Linked DNA regions of Homo sapiens: all the other regions are linked to region 2. Evidence: fine-mapped expression QTL. A gene starts in region 2. Each other region holds a variant in brackets. All regions are shown on one strand. Distances are from middle to middle. Region 1 overlaps MPRIP (myosin phosphatase Rho interacting protein). Region 2 holds the start of PLD6 (phospholipase D family member 6). Region 3 has its middle 12 kb from the start of MPRIP. Region 4 overlaps MPRIP (myosin phosphatase Rho interacting protein).

Evidence for each region. PIP is the estimated chance that this variant, and not a neighbour inherited with it, causes the effect. A credible set is the group of variants that fine-mapping cannot tell apart.
Region 1: its variant is the best candidate, but not a certain one, in a credible set for the expression of PLD6 in naive CD8 T cells (Schmiedel 2018, PIP 0.88).
Region 3: its variant is the best candidate, but not a certain one, in a credible set for the expression of PLD6 in whole blood (INTERVAL, PIP 0.89).
Region 4: its variant is the best candidate, but not a certain one, in a credible set for the expression of PLD6 in whole blood (INTERVAL, PIP 0.81).

What each region holds. Positions count from the first base shown.
Region 1 is chr17:17,047,894-17,053,040 of GRCh38, reverse strand. All of the region lies in intron 1 of MPRIP (myosin phosphatase Rho interacting protein), which reads right to left. Among named protein-coding and RNA genes, the nearest start is that of MPRIP, 8.0 kb to the right of the region's middle. The variant TG/G (reference allele first, on the strand shown) is at 2,726.
Region 2 is chr17:17,204,232-17,209,378 of GRCh38, reverse strand. It overlaps PLD6 (phospholipase D family member 6), which reads left to right and starts at 3,046. Exons shown (of 2, transcript NM_178836.4): 1 at 3,046-3,519. The coding sequence starts at 3,093. RefSeq lists silencers at 2,738-2,787, 2,828-3,077, 3,198-3,247, 3,268-3,387 and enhancers at 2,013-2,852, 3,908-4,027.
Region 3 is chr17:17,028,177-17,033,323 of GRCh38, reverse strand. No RefSeq gene overlaps it. Among named protein-coding and RNA genes, the nearest start is that of MPRIP, 12 kb to the left of the region's middle. RefSeq lists an enhancer at 3,386-3,960. The variant G/TTCAG (reference allele first, on the strand shown) is at 2,723.
Region 4 is chr17:17,120,769-17,125,915 of GRCh38, reverse strand. The region is part of intron 3 of MPRIP (myosin phosphatase Rho interacting protein); the gene reads right to left. Among named protein-coding and RNA genes, the nearest start is that of MPRIP, 81 kb to the right of the region's middle. The variant C/T (reference allele first, on the strand shown) is at 1,975.

The DNA.
Region 1 (5,147 bases), 160 kb after region 2:
TCAGGAGACCCAGGAGACATGGCCCCTTTCTCTGGCTCAGCTGGGGCTCCCTGCAGCTGCTCCCCCTTCCCTTGGCCCCTTTATCTATGGGAAGGACCACGAGGAGGTCAGAAACCTTGTGTGGAAAGTGCGCCACGGTTGCTTGTGGGTCTGTTAAATCCAGTGCCTCAGAACCTACAGAGATCAAGGACAAAGCTATTTCCTGATTCTGAATTCCTCTTTCAGAGGAAAAAATTGTGCTTCCTGTTCAGAGCTGTGCCAAAGGTGTGGCTGCTGCCTAGGCCAGTAGCCCATGTTGGGGATGTGGGGCACCCCGAGGCTGAGGAGAGGTGAAGATCTGGGCGATGCCCTGCACAACAGCCTGCACCGTTCACACACACGCCCCACCACACACTCAAGAACTAAGGAGTCCAAGTTGGGGCAAGGCCCTGTTCCTGATAGCAAAGGTTAACACTTATTAGAGACAAGGTGGCCAAACAGGACTTTGGAAAAAATCGTGCTGGACTTCCTGTGACCTAGGCAGGTCGCTGAACCTCTGCTGAACCTCTCCAGGTCTCGGCGGCTCCATCTGCTAATTGAAGACAATCCCTCACCTGCATAATGTGGGGGAAAGGCAGGGAGGGCAGGTGCAGACAGCCCCAGCAGGTCCCTCTTCCCAGGGCTAGGAACTAGAAGTCCAGGAAACAGCTGTGATTTATTCTGCAGCACTGCAATATACCAATCTCCCTACTACCCATCTGCCCCGGGGCCAAACAAAAACACTAAGGAGTTTACAAAGCAAAGTGGCCTTCCCAAGGACAGGGAGGATGAGTCTGGAGCCAGGGTGGAGTCTGGAGCCAGGGTGGACTCTGGCACGGGAGCCTCATGGAGCTGAAATCTGTATCACGGCCCCATTGCTGAGCAGCTCAGTGACCTTGGGCAGGCCGCTCAACCACTCTGAAAACTCAGGGTCCCCTCCTCCGAGGGAGGCCTTGCTGCCACCAGCCCTGCTGGCCACCCTTGCCTGCTGAGGTCTGTGTGAAATCACGGGCTATGACACAATATAGTAGGTAGAGGTTCAAAGGATCCGGCAGGCCCATCCACTCAGAGTCTCGCTGCAAAGCAGCTCTGACACCAGGGCCACCTCTGGCACAGCATGCAACCGCCAAGCTGCGCCCAAGGGGAAGGAGCCAGAAGGGTTACAGGCTCCAGGCAAAAACCAGGCTGTGGTTTCATGTGAACTAGGATGACCCTGACTGAGAAAACCAGTGAGTGGTTTGGAAGATTTCAGTTCCAGCTTCCAGAGACAAAATGTCAGTGAATCAACCCCCTAGGTGCTCTTGCCCCCAACGGAAGTGACAATGCCTTGAGAGCTCTGGGTAGGGCATGGGGGCTCCATTCCAGAGCAGCTGTAAGACTGCCTCAATTGCTAAAACTGGAAAAAGCACAAAATCTAGGGCAGAGTTTTCGAACCTGCCCCAAATGGCCCCAGAGATGACCCAAGGCCCTCCCCCGCCACCCCGCCCCAGGATGGGAGGCCAAGCTCCAGGCTTTGGCTGCCTTGCCCAGAGCTGCACTGCTTTTGATGAAAGCTTGAAAACCATCCACCTGGTCCAACGGTGTCATTCAGCTGAGAAAGAGTGGCTTGGGGAATGAGTTTCCCAGGATAAGAGAAGAGCCCGTTTTCTTAGGTCAGATGCTTCCAAATTAGCACCCAATGATCCTCCATGTCCAGTAGTAGGATGTCTTCCCCTGTGCCTCGCTGCCACACTCTCTCCCTCTTTCAAGACTAAGTGGCAGCTTGGGAACAATTTAAACATTCTGAGTTAAATTTCTTTATTTCTGCTAAAGAACATGAGGTTGCCCAAAGAAAGGCTACTTCCCCCAGAGGCGGCAGCCAGCGTGCTTCCTGGAACATCCCTCACCACATGGGGGGCTCAGGAACTCCCCATTCCATCAGCACACTACTCTGCAAAGAGAAGGCAGGCACCCGCTTTACAGGTGGGAGACATAAGTCACCTTCCTGGGTCACCCTGCACATTTGTGTCAGGAAGAGAACATAGGCCTTGGACTATAGTCCTTCTGTGTGGCAAGGGAAAGAGAAATCAGAGGAAAAGATCAGGTAACAGGCTAGAACCCAGGGAAAAAAGCTAGGGTGCAATTACATAATACTGGAACATTGCACGTCCAGTTTAGAGGGGGATACGCCAGCCTGCCCACCACGGCCCTCACCGGCTCCCCACAGGACAGGCCTGAGGCCCTGGCAAGGACCTTCCTCCCTTCTGCCCCTAAACTCTGCCTCTGGGCAGGGAGTGGGGATCAGAGCCCAGAAGAGAACTTCTAACACACCAAAAGAAGCCATCAAAGATGTGATAGTCAAAGAAAGAAACTTCAAAAGTTGGCAATAGACACCAAGGGCCAAGGAGGAGTGGGGACACAAACAGGAGTAACAAGTCCCAGAGAAGCAGCACTCCAGGAACCTTCCAACCCAAGGCCCAAGGGAGGGACGGAGGAAACTCACCACCACCTGTGGCACCCCAGGGCTGCCACCAGGACTGCGGGCAGCGGCCACACCACCAGGCTACTAAGCAGTGGGAAAGTGGCTCGTCTGAGCTGAAATGTGCTGTAACGTAAAATGCGCACGTCATAACTTTTTTGCATGGTGTAATGACAGTATTTTGGATATATCTGGTTAAATAAAACATAATTAAAATTAATTTCACCTCTTTTTTTTTTTTTTTTTTTT[TG/G]AGACGGAGTCTCACTCTATTGCCCAGGCTGGAGTGCAGTGGCGCAATCTCAGCTCACTGCAAGCTCCGCCTCCCGGGTTCACACCATTCTCCTGCCTCAGCCTCCTGAGTAGCTGGGACTACAGGCGCCCACCACCACGCCCGATTAATTTTTTGTATTTTTAGTAGAGACAGGGTTTCACCGTGGTCTCGATCTCCTGACCTCGTGATCCACCCGCCTCGGCCTCCCAAAGTGCTGGGATTGCAGGCGTGAGCCACTGTGCCCGGCCCCGACTAATTTATTGTATTTTTAGTAGAGACGGGTTTCACTGTGTTAGCCAGGATGGTCTTGATCTCCTGACCTCGTGATCCGCCCGTCTCGGCCTCCCAAAGTGCTGAAATTACAGGCGTGAGCCACTGCACCCGGCCCCTCTTTTTACTTTTTTAACGTAGCCGCTGGAAAATTTAAAATTTCCTATGTGGCTTCCATTACAGTTCTAGAGGACAGGGCTGGTCTGAGGGGTGGCACACTGTGCCCCTGTGCCAAATTGGCCCACCAGCTGCTTTTCTAAGACCCCAAAACCAAGAATGGCTTTTACATTTTTAAGTGGCTATATCCTACACAACCTCCTCGATTTTGCCTGTTGGCCTGCAAAACCTAAAATATACAAGATTTCTTTTGAGTAAAAGGCTCCGGGATTTGATGAAAGCTTGAAAACCACCGACCTGGTCCAACTGTGTCATTCAGGTGGGAAAGAGTGGCTTGGGGAAGGAGTTCCCCAGGATAAAAGAAGAGTCCTTTATAAAAAAAATTGCCAAGCCTTGGTCTAGACTCTAGAAACAATCAGATATTCACTCCAGGTGACACAAGGAGCAGAAGGCAGGTGTGTGTGTGTGAGAGAGCGATTCTTGTACAGACAGTCCCTGACTTATAATTTTGACTTTGTGATAGGTCTGATGGGTTTTACCTGGATGTACCCCCACCATAAGTCCCATCATAAGTCAAGAAGCATTTGGAAGTGAACAATTCAGGGGCATTTAGTACATTTCACAAGGCTGTGCAACCAGCACTTTTATCTAGTTCCAAAACATTTCATCACCCCCAAAATAGAACCCCAGTCTCATTAGCAGTCATTCCACATTGCCCACCCAACCCTCAGGCTCTGGCAACAACCGATCTGCTTTCTGTTTCTACAGATTTACCTGTTTTGGACATTTTACATAAATGGAATCACACAGTATGTGACACATGACCTTTCATGTCTGCCTCTTAGCGCAATGTTTTCTAGGTTCGTCCATGTTGTGGCATGTCTCAGTACTTCGCTCCTTCTTAGAACTGAATGATATTCCATGGTATGGATACACTATGATTTGCTTATCTACGCATTAGTGGATGGACACTTGGATTGTTGCTGCCGTTTGGCTATTGTGAGTAGTGCTGTTATGAACATTTGTATACAAGTATCTGTTTGAATACACCTGTCCTCAATTCTTCTTGGCATATACCTAGAAGTGGGAATGCTGGCTCACGTGGTAGGTTTTATGCTGAACTTTTTGAGAAACCCCCAAACTGTTTCCACAGCAGCTACACCATTTCATTCCCACCAGCAACGTGCAAGAGTTATAACTTCTTCACATCCTCGCCAACATGTTATATTCTTATTTTTTTAATTCTAGCCATCCTGACAGGTATGAAGTGATATCTCACTGTGGTTTCAATTTGGGTTTCGCTGATGACAACGCTGAGCATTTGTCATGGTGCTTGGCCGTCTGAAATGGGATTTTGTGTGTCTGAGATTTTTGACACGCTCCCTGCCAAGCAACACACCAACTCCTGTTACAGATCTTCTACAAGGGGGGGATGCGAAATCTCCCCGTTGTTTCTGAGATACACATTAAGTCAAATCAGGAAGTCCTATGCCTTAGAACTTCTACGAATGTCTACAGGAACAAAGGGAAACCTGATGAAATGCTTCCCTGAGACCTCGTCCTGGCCCACACCCTCTATGTCTGAAATTCCCACCTGAGGCCCCCGCAGCTTTGGAGCCTTGGCAGTGGGGTATGGGCACAGCAAGGGCAGAATCACACCAGGAAGACTAAGAACCCTGGGAGAGATCAAGACCGAGCTCATTTCCAGATGGGAAAACAGGCCTGAGCAATGAAAATGACCCAGCCAAGGTCCCACAAAAAAACAGGGCTAGACAAAGAAGTAGAAACAGGCTTGCAGGCTCCTTCCACAGAGGCAATGCCTGAAGTTACACAGTCAGCAGGAGAAAGAGACATCACCCCCAGATCAACACGCGGATGTAGAAGCTGAGCACCCTGGGTTCCAGACCTGCTTCTCCCACTAATGCCCACCCCTCTGATTCACCTCCCAGCCTCTGCACCTGCTCCCCTTTTGCCTGCCCACTACATGGGGGCTTCCTAGGCTGGTTCCTCTCC
Region 2 (5,147 bases):
TTGTAACACAAAAGAGGATAAATGCTTAAGGTGATGGATATCCTGTTTACCCTGATGTGATTATTACAAATTGCATGTCTGTACCAAAATATCTCATGTACCCGATAAATATATATACCTACTATATACCGACAAAGTTAAAAATAGAAACTGGAAGACAAAAAATAAATAAAAATCAAATAAAGCTTCTCATTTTGTTGTCTGCCTTTGGTAGATTTCCAGCCCTGAAGTGGCTGTTTTTGAAAACTGTTTTCCCCCAGTTTTATTTTTGTTTATCCCTCTCTGGAGGGATTTGAGTCCTTCTTTATACCTCCACAACTCCAAGTCCCTCCTCTCATTATCGTTTTAGATGAGGAAAGTGAAGCTCAGAAGAGATGAATCAATTTGCCCTAGACCATGCAGCTAGGAAGCCTGGGAGCCAGCACTAAACTCAAGTGTTCTTTTTCTTTGTTAAGAATTTTATTCGCCAGGCACGGTGGCTCACACCTGTAATTCCAGCACTTTGGGAGGCCGAGGCAGGCTGATCACGAGGTCAGGCGATCGAGACCATCCTAGCTAACACGATGAAACCCCGTCTCTACTAAAAATACAAAAACAAAAATTTAGCCGATGTGGTGGTGTGCATTTGTAGTCCCAGCTACTTGGGAGGCTGAGGCAGGAGAATTGCTTGAACCCAGGAGGTGAAGGTTGCAGTGAGCCGAGATCGTGCCACTGCACTCCAGACTGGGCGACAGAGCGAGACTTCATCTCAAAAAAAAAAAAAAGAAGGCCGGGTGCGGTGGCTCACGCCTGTAATCCCAGCACTTTGGGAGGCCGAGGCAGGTGGATCACGAGGTCAGGAGTTCGAGACCAGCACGGCCAAGATGGTGAAACCCCATCTCTACTAAAAATACAAAAATTAGCCGGGTGTGGTGGTGGGCGCCTGTAATCCCAGCTGCTCGGGAGGCTGACGCAGAGACTCACTTGAACCCCGGAGGCAGAGGTTGCAGTGAGCCGAGATCGCACCACTGCACACCAGCCTGGGCGAAAGAACGAGGCTCCGTCTTAAAAAAAAAAAAAAGAATTTTATTGACATAATCACTGACATACATTTTTAGTTATTTACACCATACAATTTGACATATGTATATACCTGTGAAACCACCACAGTCAACCCGATAAGCACACATCCATCACTCCACTTCCTTGTGGCTTTGTTGGCCTCCAGGCTACACTGGTCTGCTTTCCCTCAATCTAGTTTGCATTTTCTAGAATTTTATGTAAATGGAATCATACAGTATGTACTCTTTTTGTCTGGCTTTTCCCACTCAATATTAATGAAATTCATCCACGTCGTAGCACATGTGAGTACTGTTTTTTTTTTTTTTTGGTGGGGGGGGGATAGGGTCTTGCTGTGTCACCCAGGCTGGAGTGCAATGGCATGATCTTGGCTCACTGCAACCTTAGTCTCCAGAGCTCAAGCGATTCTCCCACCTCAGCCTCCCGAGTAGCTGGGATCACAGGCACGTCAGCGCACTCAGCTAATTTTTGTATTTTTTGGTAGAGACAGTGTTTCACCATGTTGGCCAAGCTGGTTTCGAATTCCCGAACTCAAGCTGTCCTCCTGCCTCAGCCTCCCAAAGTTCTGGGATAACAGGCATGAACCACCGTGCCAGGCCACTTCATTCTATTTTATTGCTAAATAGCATTCCCTTGTACAGATATACAAAAGCTTATTTACCTGTTTACCTGCTGACGCCTTTTTGGGTTGTTCTAGGCACATACGCCTGCCAGGACACGTGCTTGTGTTAATGGATCCCGCCCTTTCTCCTAGGAGTGGGATAGCTGGATCATATGGAAGGTGCAAGTTTAATATTTTAATAAACTTTTAATTTAGAATAATTTGCTTTACAGAAAAGTTTCGAATATAGAACAGAGAGATCCATTTACCCCCACGCAGCTTCCTTTGTTAACCTTTTACATTCCTTTCATACATTTGTCAAAGCTAAGAAACTGACATTGGTACAATGCGATTAAGCTCCAGACTTTATTTGGCTCTCACCAGTTTTTCCGTGAATGTCTTCTTTCGGTTCCAGGATCCAGCCCAGACCACCACATTGCCCCGTTTCCCTATGCCCCCGGCCCAGTGCCCTCGGCTGCCTTAGTCTCTTCCTCTGTTTATGCTTAAAGCAGGGCAGGCCTTCCAACAACGCCGGCTGGAAAAAACCTCTTGGGCTAGGAAAAAACCTCTGGGCCGACACCGCCTCCAGTATGCTGGGTTCCAATGCTGCCTCCAGCTGTGTTGATTCCCTGATTATCTGTGTTCCCAGGTCATTCCCCAGCCCAGCCTAGCTGCTCCCGAGAAGACAGTGAAGGTGTGACCCCACATTTCCAGAGCAGCTCTGCTGTGCTCCATGCGAGGAAAGCCGGGGTTGCTGTGGCTTCTAGCGCGGAGAGCGGTCTCTGGCCTGGGCAGGTGACGGGTGTGCTAGGGCCCGTGGCCCGCGGGTGTGCAGGTGCTGCCTGGTGGCGCGGGCTTGGGGACGTGGCTTGGCACGTGGTGGGAGGTGGAACCTGGAGGGCGTGGCCGAGCGCCTGGCTGGAAGGAAAATGGGGGGCACAGCCTGGCGTTGGGGGGTGGAGGGTGTCTGTGGCAGGGGGCGTGGCCTGGCGCGTGGAGGGAGGCGTGGTCACCTGTTGAGGGTTGGGGGCGGGCTGATGGGAGGCGTGGGTTCAGCTTGGTGCGTGACAGTTGTGGGGGCATGGCGCGGCCTAGCGCGTGGCCCTCGGGGGCTGAGGGCGTGACCTTGCACGTGGCCGTTGGTGGGGCGTGACGGGGGCGTGGCCTGGCGTGTGGCCATGGGTGCTGGGCGTGGCCTGGCACGTGGCCTGGCACGTGGCCGTTGGCGCTGCGTGACGGGGGCGTGGCCTGGTGCGTGGCAATTGGCAGGACGTGATAGGGCGTGGCCTGGCGCGTGGCCATGGGGGGCTGGGCGTGGCCTGGCACATGGCCGCTGGCGGCGCGTGACGGGGGCGTGGCCTGGCGGTCTAGGGCTGGGGGCGCGCAGACTCCGCTGCGGCGGCGTGGCTGTGGGTCCCGGATTAGCGGCGGCATGGGACGGTTGAGTTGGCAGGTGGCGGCCGCGGCGGCTGTGGGCCTGGCTCTGACTCTGGAGGCGCTGCCTTGGGTGCTGCGCTGGCTGCGGTCCAGGCGGCGGCGGCCGCGGCGCGAGGCGCTGTTCTTCCCGTCTCAGGTGACCTGTACCGAGGCCCTGCTGCGGGCTCCGGGCGCGGAGCTGGCCGAGCTCCCCGAGGGCTGCCCGTGCGGCCTGCCCCACGGCGAGAGCGCGCTAAGCCGCCTGCTGCGTGCCCTGCTGGCCGCCCGCGCCAGCCTGGATCTCTGCCTGTTCGCCTTCTCCAGCCCGCAGCTGGGCCGCGCCGTGCAGTTGCTGCACCAGCGTGGGGTGCGAGTGCGGGTCGTCACCGACTGCGACTACATGGCCCTCAACGGCTCGCAAATCGGTCTGCTGCGCAAGGCAGGTAGGCCCGGCGGGGTCCAAGCGGAGAAGGCCGGCTTGGCCCACGCGGGGTCCTAGGCGCAAAGGTGGACACTTAGGGGAGGGGGTCTGGGGACGGGCTGAGGCCTCATTTACTTTCCTCGTGGCCTTGTGGGGTCGGGGTGGTGTAACGCGGAGAAAGCAGAGCCCCCACAGAAGGTCTAGCCGGCTGCGTGGGCATAAGCGAGCCGGACCCTCGGTGCCTCCGCGGTGGGGGCGGTTCTCTCAGTGAACTGTCCCGGCATGCTGGAAGCAGGTGGGCCTGCGTGTGCCGGGTTAGAGGCGGAGCAGATTCCCCTAGCAACTCCTCGGGCGCCGCCGGCGGAGTTTTCGTGACTGCTGCAGCCCGGGCCCGCCCTCCTACGCTGCCGGAGATCCCCGGACGGCCTCTGGTAACCTGGATCCTGGTGGCAGGGGAGCTGGACGCCAGGGTTGTGCTTGGACTTCCAGACTGAAGGGCTCTGGGGAGAGGCGGCCACCTGCTGCCCAGTGAATCTCAGGCCACTGGGCTCTGGGAGACCTGAACATGTTCTAGAAAGCAGCGCCAGGACATTCGGTTGTTTTCCCAGCTGCAAAAGGAGGGGAACACATATTTCTGGCGGGGGCGCCTCTCTCATGGGGTGGGGACAGAAGGGACCAGGAAATGTGAATAATTGGGATCCTTGTCCCACCTGAGGATTCTCAGTCCATCCTGGCCCAGTTCGGCGGCCCAGCCTGCTGTTGCCTTTTGTGTATCTGCACTCACAGACTCTTGGGCCTGTCTCTGTCTCCATCACTCAGGCACCCAGAAAGTCACGCCTGCACGTGCAACGGTTGGATCTGATAATACTGGTGGTCGCAGTGACCGAGAGATGTGTGGAGCCCTGGGAATTGTCCAGGCTGGGCAGTGGTCACCGCCGCGCTGTTCCTTCTGCACAGCCATAGCCTCTTGTTGACTTGGGCCTCAGAGCAGCCTCTCCAGAGTCAGCCAGGGTCCCTCCCTGCTCTGGGTGGTGTGGGGCATGTTGCACGCCATGTGGGAGCAGAGTGGGGCACGTGGTTTTCATATTGAGGATGTCTCCTTCTCTTTGGGGCAGCCACAAGAGCTGTCCTCCCATGTGTTGGTCATTTTAACGGGAGGTTTGGGGACCTCCAGGCATGCACAGTACAGTTCTGTTTGAGTTGCTTTTACAGTCGTAGAAGCTGAGGTTGGTGAAGACCCTTCAAGGGCCCCTAGACCAAGGTCCCATCGGATCCCCTCTGGGATGGCCTCCCAGCATCCTCGCTGACTTCGAGGCTGTCCAGTGGCATTCACTGTTCAAGGAATGTCCCCTCTGTGCCAGTATTTGTGAGGAGCTGGAACATCCTAGGGCACAAGGGCACAAGGCCAGGTTGCCACGGAGATGCCAACTAAGTCATGAATATTTCATTTAGGGCACTGAGAAGGGCCAAGAAAACTTCATAAAGCAGGGTAAGGAGGCAGTGGTGTGGGAGGAAGTGGCGTGGGCCAGGTCAGCTGCCCAGGGGCAGTGACACTCAGGGCAGGGACCTTGCTGACACCAGTGGACTGTTCGGAGGGAGAGGCATGCGGCTGGAAGGGGCAGCAGCACAGTCGCCCTGGGTCACAGACTG
Region 3 (5,147 bases), 180 kb after region 2:
AACTCTAATAACAAGGTGTATGTCTACATGAATGTGTATATATGCACATGTAGGCTGGGCACGGTGGCTCATGCCTGTAATCCCAGCACTTTGGGAGGCCAGGGTGGGCGGATCACCTGAGGTTAGGAGTTCGAGACCAGCCTGGCCAACATGGTGAAACCCCATCTCTACTAAAGATACAAAAAAATTAGCCAGGCATGGCGGTGTGCGCCTATAATCCCAGCTACTCGGGGGGCTGAGGTAGGACAATCTCTTGAACCGGGGAGGTAGAGGTTGCAGTGAGCTGAGATGGCGCCACTGCACTCCAGCCTGGGTGACAGAGCAAGACTTCATCTTAAAAAATTATATATATATATATATATATATATATATATATGTATATATATATAATGTACATGTGCATACACACAGGGACACAGGGCTGCATATGTATGCGTATGTGCGTATCTAGCCATTCATGAACAATGTTTGTGTACTTTTTAAATTTTTTTTTTCTTAGGATAAATTCATGGGTTGGGATTGCTAAGTCAAAAGATAAACACATTGGTAAGGCTCTTGATAAGTATCACTAAACAAAGAGCCAAGAAAGTTGTAGTAATCTGCTCTCTGGATTGACATGTTTTTCTTTTTCAGGACATGCAGGGAAGCATGTAGTTCCAGGGTTGCACACTCAGAGGCCTCTAGGGCCAGGCAGGTGGCAGCAGTGGCCTCAGTGATCTGGGGTGTCCATGCTCCTACAACAGGCAGCAGCTCCATGGCCTCGGTCGTAGCCGTCTGTCCTACAGGATTTGGGCCTGGTCGTGATCGATCTTTTAATTTTCCAAAAGAAATCAGAAATCGAGGTTGTTACACAAATTGTCAGGGCCTACTCAGCTGTGGGGAGGGGGCCTTCAGGGTCCCACAGCCAAGAAGAAGAGGCCTGGGACTCAAGAGGCAGGCAACACAGGCCACAGGCTGGGCTGTCCCTGCCCTGGCCCCACCATCTGCACCAAGCCTGGAGGACGGCCAGCTGGCCGGGGCAGGGAGAGGCGGCAGCTCTTCCGGCCTGCGTGCCTGCGTGTGGCCAGGCTGGGGAGTGGAGGTTTGCTCAGAGTCCACAGGAATGGGGGCTGACACTTCTAGTTCACCATATCACTTCAGGGGCTGTGACTCGTGGGTGTGTGTAAGAGTCATTGATATATCATCTCCTTATGTGTCTGTGTCTGTGCATGTCCAGAGGGTGGTCTGGCTATCTCTGAGGGTGTTTCTGGGAATGACCATGTTATGTGTCTACATGCATGTTGGCCTGTTTATCTGGGGGTCTGACCTGCATCTCTGACTTGTGAATATGTGTGTGAATTGTACAGATGCATCCATCTTTGCATGTCATATGATCTGTGAGATGATGGTACATATTTATGTGTGTTTGTGGGCAACTGGGCTATCTGGCTGGCCCCACTGCATATATATCTGGGCTTCTATGTGATTGTCTGTGAGTGTCATTGTGTGTGTGTATTCTGTCTGATTGAGCTGTATATGTTTGCATGTCTGTTTTATATATGCAGGTCCATGTGTCCATATCTATGTGCATGTTTGGGCTTGGCAAGTTGCCTCATACCTATAATCCCAGCACTTTGGGAGGCTGAGGCAGGAGGATCGCTTGAGGCCAGGAGTTTGAGACCAACCCGGACAGCATGGTGAGACCTCATCTCTACAAAAAAATTAAAAATTAGCTGGGCATGGTGGCACACACCTGTAGGCCCAGCTACTTGAAAGACTGAGGCGGGGGGATCGCTTGAGCCCAGGAAATTGAGGCTGCAGTGAGCTAGGATGGCATGACTGCACTCCAGGCTGGGCGACAGAGTGAGAACTTGTCTCTAAAAATAAAATAAAAATAATAAATAGAATAAGGTAAGTGCAGTCTGTGCCTATGCCTCTGCACAAGTGCGTGTCAGCATGCATAGTTGTGTGTTGTGTCCGGCTGAGTAGGCACATGTGCATGCGTGTGAGTGTTGGATGCTGGGGCAGTCAGGGTTCGAGTCACTGACAGTCAGCACCCACTCCTCACTTCCTCATGCCTGGTTCCTACAGGTCCCCACAAGAAGCATGTAGGGCCCAAGCACCCCCTGCCACCTCTGAACCCCAAGCACAGGCACGAGAAGGTAAGGGTGGCCGACTGCAGGGCCCAGGCTTGGAGGACCCTGGAGCCGACTCCTGGTGCATGTACCACGACTGCCAGCCTGCCTTGGCCTGGCTCCTGGGAAACACTTGCCCTTGGCCAACTGGAGAGCTGTCGATTTGGGACACAGCCCCACAGTGGCCACCACTTTATCCCACCCTCAAATACTTCCTAAGGCCATTTGTTGCTAGGAGACGGGTACAGGCAGCCTGCTTTGATGGCTCTCTAGACACAGGCTCCAGGGACAGGAAGCCTGTCTGGCCCCTTTCCTATGAAGTGGCTGGGGAGACTGGGGGTGGGCATCGGGGATGAAGGATAGACGGGGCAGCTTGGACAGAGTAAGCAGCAGGAAGTCTCAGAGCCTTAGGAGCAGAGGGGCCCTGGTACCCCTTGGTCAGGATGCTGAGCCCAGAGAGGGCAAGATCCTGACTTAGGTCACACAGCAACAATCCCCGGCAGAACTAGCATTCCTTTTGGAGAAATTCAGAGTTCATGGCCCCAGGAGTCATTCATTCACTCATGCATGCATTCATTCATTCATTCATTCATTCATTCATTCATTCA[G/TTCAG]CAATTACATATTAAGCATCTACTATACGCCAGGCCCACTACTAAGCCCCGGCATACAGCAGTGGAAAAGACGGAGGCAATCCTCACCTCACAAAGCTGATACTCTCGTCAGAGAGACAGAAAACAAGTGAAGTTAAGATCACGTCACTTTGTGCTAAGGGCTAGTAAATAAAATTACACCATGTAGAACATTGGAGTCGCTCTGTCCAAATGGTGGCCACTAGCCCCATGTGGCTATATGAGTTTCAAGTAATTGGAGTAATTGAAAATTAAGAGTCCAGTTCTTCCATTGCAGTAGCCGCATTTCAGGGGCTTGTTAGCCACACGGGGCCGGTAGCTTCTGACAGAGGCTGGTGACAGTGGACAAAGAGCACTTCCATCACAGAAGGAGCTGCCGGACAGGGCTGGTGTGGGGAGTGGACAGAAGGCTGGGGGCCAGATGGCCGAGGACAGCGACATCTAGGCTGTCCTGCTGAGAAGGGGCGGCCACATGGTGATGCACCCGGGGGACAGGACAGCAGGTGCAATGCTGGCCAGGTGGGGATGTGCTTGGTGTGTTCAAGGGACAGAAAGGACAGAGGCAGTGAGGGGAGAGGAGAGAGAGGTGGGGTTGGGGAGGTCAGCGGGGGTCTCTGGGGCCTGGGTAAGGAGTTTCTGCTTTATGTGGAGGGCGTCAGGAAGCCATGGGGGGAGGGGTTAAGCAGGAGAGTGGCATGGTTTTAACAATATATGGAGAATGGATTTGTGGGGGCAAGAGTGGAAGGAAGGAGCCCTAGGGAGGAGGCTGTTGTGTCACAGAGAGGAAGGTGACTGAGACCTGGGTGATATGGGAGTGGGGGTTGGGCAACAGCCATCATAGCCCAAGCCTCAGGGTTATGGATCCAGCTGTGCCTGAAGCTACGGCTTGCTTGACACCCCCTCTACCTCCTTCCTCCTCTTGGTTGCTGGGCACTGACTTGAACACCCCTCATTACTACCACCCACCTATCCCCTCCCTCACAAAACCCCCGACTGTCTCTCCTCCTATCCCTGTGCGGAGCACTCAGACGGGACCTAGGCTTCCCTCAGTGCCCTGGGTCCAGTTTCTTTTGCCGGGCTTTGCCCCTCTCATCGCATCCCAGGGTTGATAAGCTAGCCCTGTCTAGTCACATTGAGGTCCTGGGAAAATACCTTAGGCCACCTGGTGTTTCACTGACTTTCCCCACCAGGACGCTTTCCTGGAGCTGTGAGCAGGATGCAGGAGGAATCAGCTGGCTCTGGGTCTGGGGGGTGGGAGTGACTAAAAGAGAAGGCTCAGCTTCAGTTGCAAAGTCCCCCAGAGGGACTTTGGTTTGTTTACGGGAAGAACTTCCCCTCTATAAAAGGGCCGATGTCATCCTTGTGCATTCGTGCATTCACAGTGGAGGGGATCCCCTAGGACCCTAAAAATGAGGTGGAAAGCCTTCTCCCTAGGGCAGGCGTCCAGAGGCCGGCTCTGCTTCTCAAACGCTGGGCACTCATTCCTCCTCAGGATCTTTGCAGCTGCAGTTCCCTCTGCCTGGAATGCTGTTCCCCTAAGACCCCAGGTGGCGTCTCCATCTGGCTGCCAAGTCTCCTCCTGAGCGATTATGCGGATTACCTGATGAGCACGGCTTCCTCCTTGGAAGCACCTTGTTTTGTCTCCGGTACTAGAACGCCAGCTCCACAAGGGCAGGGCGGTTGTTGATCTTGTTTTTCTCTGTCCCCTCCTGTCTGACACTATGCCTGGCATATGGTGGATGTTCCCAGGAGGTTTCTGGAATGAGCAGATGTCTGGGGTGAGTGTGGGCAGGTGGCTGCCATGCATACAGAGCCTGCCAGGCCCCAGGGGGCTCAGACTCACCCTCTGACTGCACCCTCCCAATGGGGATCAGGACTTTGAGGCTTGGAGAGGTGAGGTCACTCACCCGAGGTTGCACAGGCAGTATGTGGTGGGCCTGGTCTGGAGAGGCCTGGAGGGGACTTGGGGGTGTTGGAGGCTGGGCCACGGCCTGGGGACACACTGCCTTTCCACATGACAGCTCTCCATCCGTCCACAGCCCCTGCTTCCCCTGCCAAGTCGCACCTGGGGCTTCCCTGGCCACCTTGGGTCCTCAGGTACAATTGCACTGCAGGGCACTGGCCTGTGGCACACAGCAGCAGGCCCTGCAGCCCAGATTCACACAGCAAGCGAATGAGGCATAGCTGAAAACCGTGCACATGGTGGCCTCAGTCCACACAGGGTGGACCCAGCCCTGGACAGGCATGTGGCTCCACCCAACACTGAGCAGGCAGCCCTGCCTCCTGAGTGCACCTGCCACGCCCAGGGCTTACGTCAGCTGGGGGGACTGGGGCAGCCTCTCTGAAGAATGCAGCTCATTGTCAGCGATGGGGCAGGATTCCTTCGCAATGGCCACACCCAGAGGCA
Region 4 (5,147 bases), 83 kb after region 2:
ACCACACCAGGGGTGCCCCTGTCCTTAACACACTCCACACTGACTCCACCCCACTAATGGACAGCTGCTGGCTTCTCCACTGAGCACCCCCAACAGCCCACCATTTCCTTGTTCTCATTCTTGAAGAAGCAGAAGATGCTTCTGATCCATCTGAGGGGTGGCCTGCAGTTGGGCTGCCTTCCACCCAGAGGCCATCCAGCCTCAAGCTCCTTGCTGACAGTCAATGGGGGCTTGGTCTCAAGAGCAGGATGCTGGGTCTGGTGCCCATGCTGAGCTCAGACCAACCACTCTCCACACCCCGACCTTCTTCCTTTCAGAAACAGGTTAGGTGCAACCTCCTTGTCCCTCCACCTCAAGCTCCTGTGATCTTCCTGTTACTTCCTCTGACCTACTTGCCACCTCTTTCTACACCCCTTGATGCCTGCCTGCAGGAGTCAGACCGGAGGGCTGCTGGCTTTGCAGAGCCCTTGCCTACATGGCTGCTGGCTCTTTTCTCCATGGTTAAATGTCCAGGTCCAAGAAGCCTTTCCTTGTGGGGTCTCTGGACTCAGCCATCCCCCGTGGGTCCAGCTCAGAAGGGAGGTGGCACAGCAGGTGGGATGGAGGCTGGGCTCACAGGGAAGCCTCCTTCAGTGGCTTCACCCTTTCAGCATACACCATTGGCATCCTGCCTCAACACTGACCCTGGGGGGACACGAGGAGGAGCCACATTCAAGCCCAGCTCAGTGCTCTCCATCAGTGGAGTGGCCCGCAGGTGTCTCTTCCAGACACTCTTGGAGGGTCCTTGAGAAGGAGCCAGGAAAGGGAGATGGGTAGGGTTGCTCTGCAACCAAGCAGTGGGTGTTTCTTGAGAAGGAGAGGGTACAGGAGGCAGCCTCAGACCCCATCTTTATGTTAGTCCAGGAAGCCTGGATCCAAGCCCCTGCCACCTTCTGGTTGGGGAGACCCACACTGAGTGCTATGGCCACAGCCACAGGACAGGTGGGCCTTCCTGCCCAAGGTGGGGGTCCTGGCTTTCCTAATCTCCTCTCTCCAGCTCCAGCCCCTTTACTCTATTTGACAGAAATTCTCATCCTGGGCATCCTGGCATAGTGCAGGTGCCTGTCTGAACCCTCTGGGCAAATGAAGGGTTGCTCTGACTTCCCTCTTGAGCCCAACACCCCCATGCAAAAGCGCACCCCACCTCCACCTCCCTAGACAAGGCATCTTGTCTCTCTGAGGTGGACTCTCTTGTTTGCTGAGGAAACTCCATGGACCACAGTGAGGACTGGATGACATGAAATGGTAAAGTGGCCAGTGCACTCGTTACTAGAGTGTCAGAAGCCATCCTGAAGGAACCACTGTGGAGGCAGAGGGGCTTTCCTAAGGTGGCCCTTCCTCTCTGGTCTTTGACTCCCACCCTGGTCCTTGGGACCGTGGTCTCAAACTGCTGACAGTACAGGCCCTGGATGAGCTGTGTATCCATACCATGGTGCCAGTCTATTATGAGTGTGCATGCGTGTGCACACACACACACAGAGACATATGTTAGATGGAATATATCAACAGAAATTCCAAAGTTTTCTTCTCAAGGGATCATCCACCGGCCCCCTGGAGGCACAGACCCCACTTTGAGGCCACTGTTCCAGGGTTCAGTGTCACCAAATTGCTCACTGTCCCTGAAGCCCACTCTTCCCTCTTACGCAGTAATTGTTTGGGCACTTGGCCCCCAGCTGAACAAAGCCCCTGCTCTGCTGCTGAACGTGGTTGTGTCTCAGCCTCACCAAATGAGTATGAAGCAATGCCTTCCACCTCTCCACCTCTCTGGGCCTCAGTTTCCTCATGTGCAAAGTGAGGGTTCTATCTCCTTCCAAAAAGGATTTCAGAAGCATTAATAAAAGGCAAAAACATACCAAGCTGAGCCAGGACTGAAGGAAATTAGCATGTATTAACTACCTGTGTGTCAAGATTTCACAGTTACACTCCCTTTTATGC[C/T]CTCTTCAATATTACTTACTGTGAGGCGGGCATCACCTAACCCTATCACACACAGAGAAAGGAGAGCAAATGGGGGTAAATACGTTATCAAAGAAGGGAATATTTTAACTCCAGAGCCCAATCTATTTCCATGGAGGAGGGAAAAAAAACTTCCTGCTCTTAATCAGATGATCTCATTTTTATTTAATCCTGGTATTAACTTTTCGTTTTTTCTTTCTTTTTTTTTTTTTTTTTTTTTGAGACGAAGTCTCGCTCTGTTGCCCAGGCTGGAGTGCAGTGGTGTGATCTCAGCTCACTGCAACCTCCATCCCCTGGGTTCAAGGGATTCTCCTGTCTCAGCCTCCCAACTAGCTGGGACTACAGATGCATGCTACCACACCCAGCTAATTTTTGTATTTTTAGTATTATATTTTTGTATTTTATAGTAATTTTTGTATTTTTAGTAGAGACGGGGTTTCACCATGTTGGCCAGGCTGGTCTCGAACTCCTGACATCAACTGATCCGCCTGCTTCAGCCTCCCACAGTGCTGGCATTACAGGCGCGAAGCCACCGCCCCTGGCCTAACTTTTCTTTTTAACAACAGCTTTATTGAGATATAATTTACATACAATTTACCTAAAGTGTACAGTTCAATGGCTTTTAGCATCATGTTCACAGAGCTGTTCTGCAATCAAGTGCAGAACATTTCCATCTCCCCCTGAAAAGCCATTCGCAGTCACTTCCCTTTGACACCTGTCCCCACCTCAACAACTGCTAACCTGCTTCCTGCCTCTGTGGATGCATCTCTTCTGGATACCTTGCATAAATGGAAAAATCTGGCTTCCATTTAGCATATTTTCAAGGATTTAGCATATTTTCAAGGTTCCTCCGCATTGCAGCATGTGTCAGTCTTTCAATACTTTTTACAGCTGAATAACGTTCCATTGTGCGGCTATACCGCATTTTGTTTATCCATTCATCTGTTGATGGACATTTGGACTGTTTCCATTTTTTGGCTACTGTGTATAGTGCTGCTGTGCACATTCCTGTACAGTGCTCCTGTGCTCTCATTTCTCTTGGGTGTGTACCTAGGAGCAGAAGTGCTGGGTCATATGGAAACTATATGTTTAACTCTGAGGAGCTGCCAGACTATTTCCCAAAGTGGCTGTGCCATCTCACATTCCCACTAGCACTGCGTGAGGGTTTGGGACTAACTTTTTAAATTGTATTTATGTACTGCTTCTAACCAGCACTCTTGGAAGACAGGTCCAGGTACGTACTGAGGACCTGCTATAAAATAGCTCCCTTTGGCCAGGCGCAGTGGCTCATGCCTGTAATCCCAGCACTTTGGGAGGCCAAGACGGGCGGATCACGAGGTCAGGAGATCGAGATCATCCTGGCTAACACGGTGAAACCCTGTCTCTACTAAAAATACAAAAAATTAGCTGGGCGTGGTGGCAGTCGTCTATAGTCCCAGCTACTCGGGAGGCTGAGGCAGGAGAATGGCGTGAACCCGGGAGGCGGAGCTTGCAGTGAGCCGAGATTGCGCCACTGCACTCCAGCCTGGGTGATGGAGCGAGATTCCATCTCAAAAACAAAACAAAACAAAACAAATAAACAAAAAAACAACAAAATGAAAACAAAAAACAGCTCCCTTCGATTGTGGAGAGAAAGGAACACTTATACACTGTTGGTGGGAGTGTAAATTAGTTCAGCCATTGTGGAAGACAGTGTGGCAATTCCTCAAAGACCTAAAGATAGAAATACCATTTGATGCAGCAATCTCATTACTGGGTATATACCCAAAGGAATATAAGTCATTCTATTATAAAGACACATGCATATGTATGTTCACTGTAGCACTATTCACAATAGCAAAGACACGGAATGCCCATCAATGATACAGACCAGAGAAAGAAAATGTGATATATATACACCATGGAATATTATGTAGTCATAAAAAAGAATGAGATAATACCCTTTGCAGGGACATGGATGGAGCTGGAGGCCACTATCTTTAGCAAACGAACACAGGAACAGAAAACCACACAGCACATGCTCTCACTTGTAAGTGGGAGCTAAATGATGAGAACATATAGACACATGGAGAGAAACAACACACACTGGGGCCTTTCAGAGTGGGGAGGGTGGGAAGAGGGAGAAGATCAGGAAAAGTAACTAATGGGCATTAGGCTTAATATCTGGGTGATGAAATAACCTGTACAACAAACTTCCATGACACAACTTTACCTATGTGACAAACCTGCACTTGCACCCCTGAACTTAAAAAAAGAAAAAGAAAAAGAAAATAGCTCCCTCCAAGTCTCAGTAGTGCAGTGTTCCCCCTTCCCCTGCTGCCGATGGGGAAGCAGCAACAACAGCACCAGCACAGGCGCAGGGCACAATGGTGCTCATGTTTGCGCCCATGCCCTTGAATACCACGCACTGCTGCAAACTCTTCCCGTGTCCTCTCACTGAACATTCCGAACACACTATGAGGCAGGCACTACTGTCACTCTCATCCCGCAGACAAGGAAGCAGACTGCTAAGAAGCTAGGTGCAGTCATGCACCGCACAACGATGTTAGTCAACAGCTCCCTCTATGTTTTGCTAGGTTTGGATACATCAATACTTGCCACTGTGTTATAACTGCTTGTGATATTGCAGTATATGCTGTACAGGTTTATGGCTTCGCAGCAATAGGCTCTACCACAAAGCCTAGGTGTGCAATAAGCTGTACTGTCTAACTTTGTGTAAGTGCACTCTAGAATATTTACACAAGGACCAAACTGCCTGAGAAAACACATTTCTCAGGATGTGTGCCTGTCATTAAACAACGCAGAACTGTAATTTTGATTTAAGGTCACAATGCTAGGAAGTAGCCATGTCAGGATTCAAACCCAGGCACTCTGGTTCCAGAGCTGGTCCCCCTGCTGCTCTGCACTCAGCAGCATTTCCAGACTGAACAGACTCAACCAATGGCTCCAGGGAGCCCCTCAGCCAGCACCTCTCCCCTCCCCTGCCTCTGCCTAGGGGGCAGGATACAACCATCTGTGTCTGGGTAGGCCTGAATCTTGTGCTGCGAGAGTAAGGGCAAATATCTAGGCTGTAACCCAAATCCAGCCAGAAGGAACGCCTCAGCTCTAACGCTGTCAGCAAAGCAACTCTGATGAGCTTCCTGCCCTAATTCTAT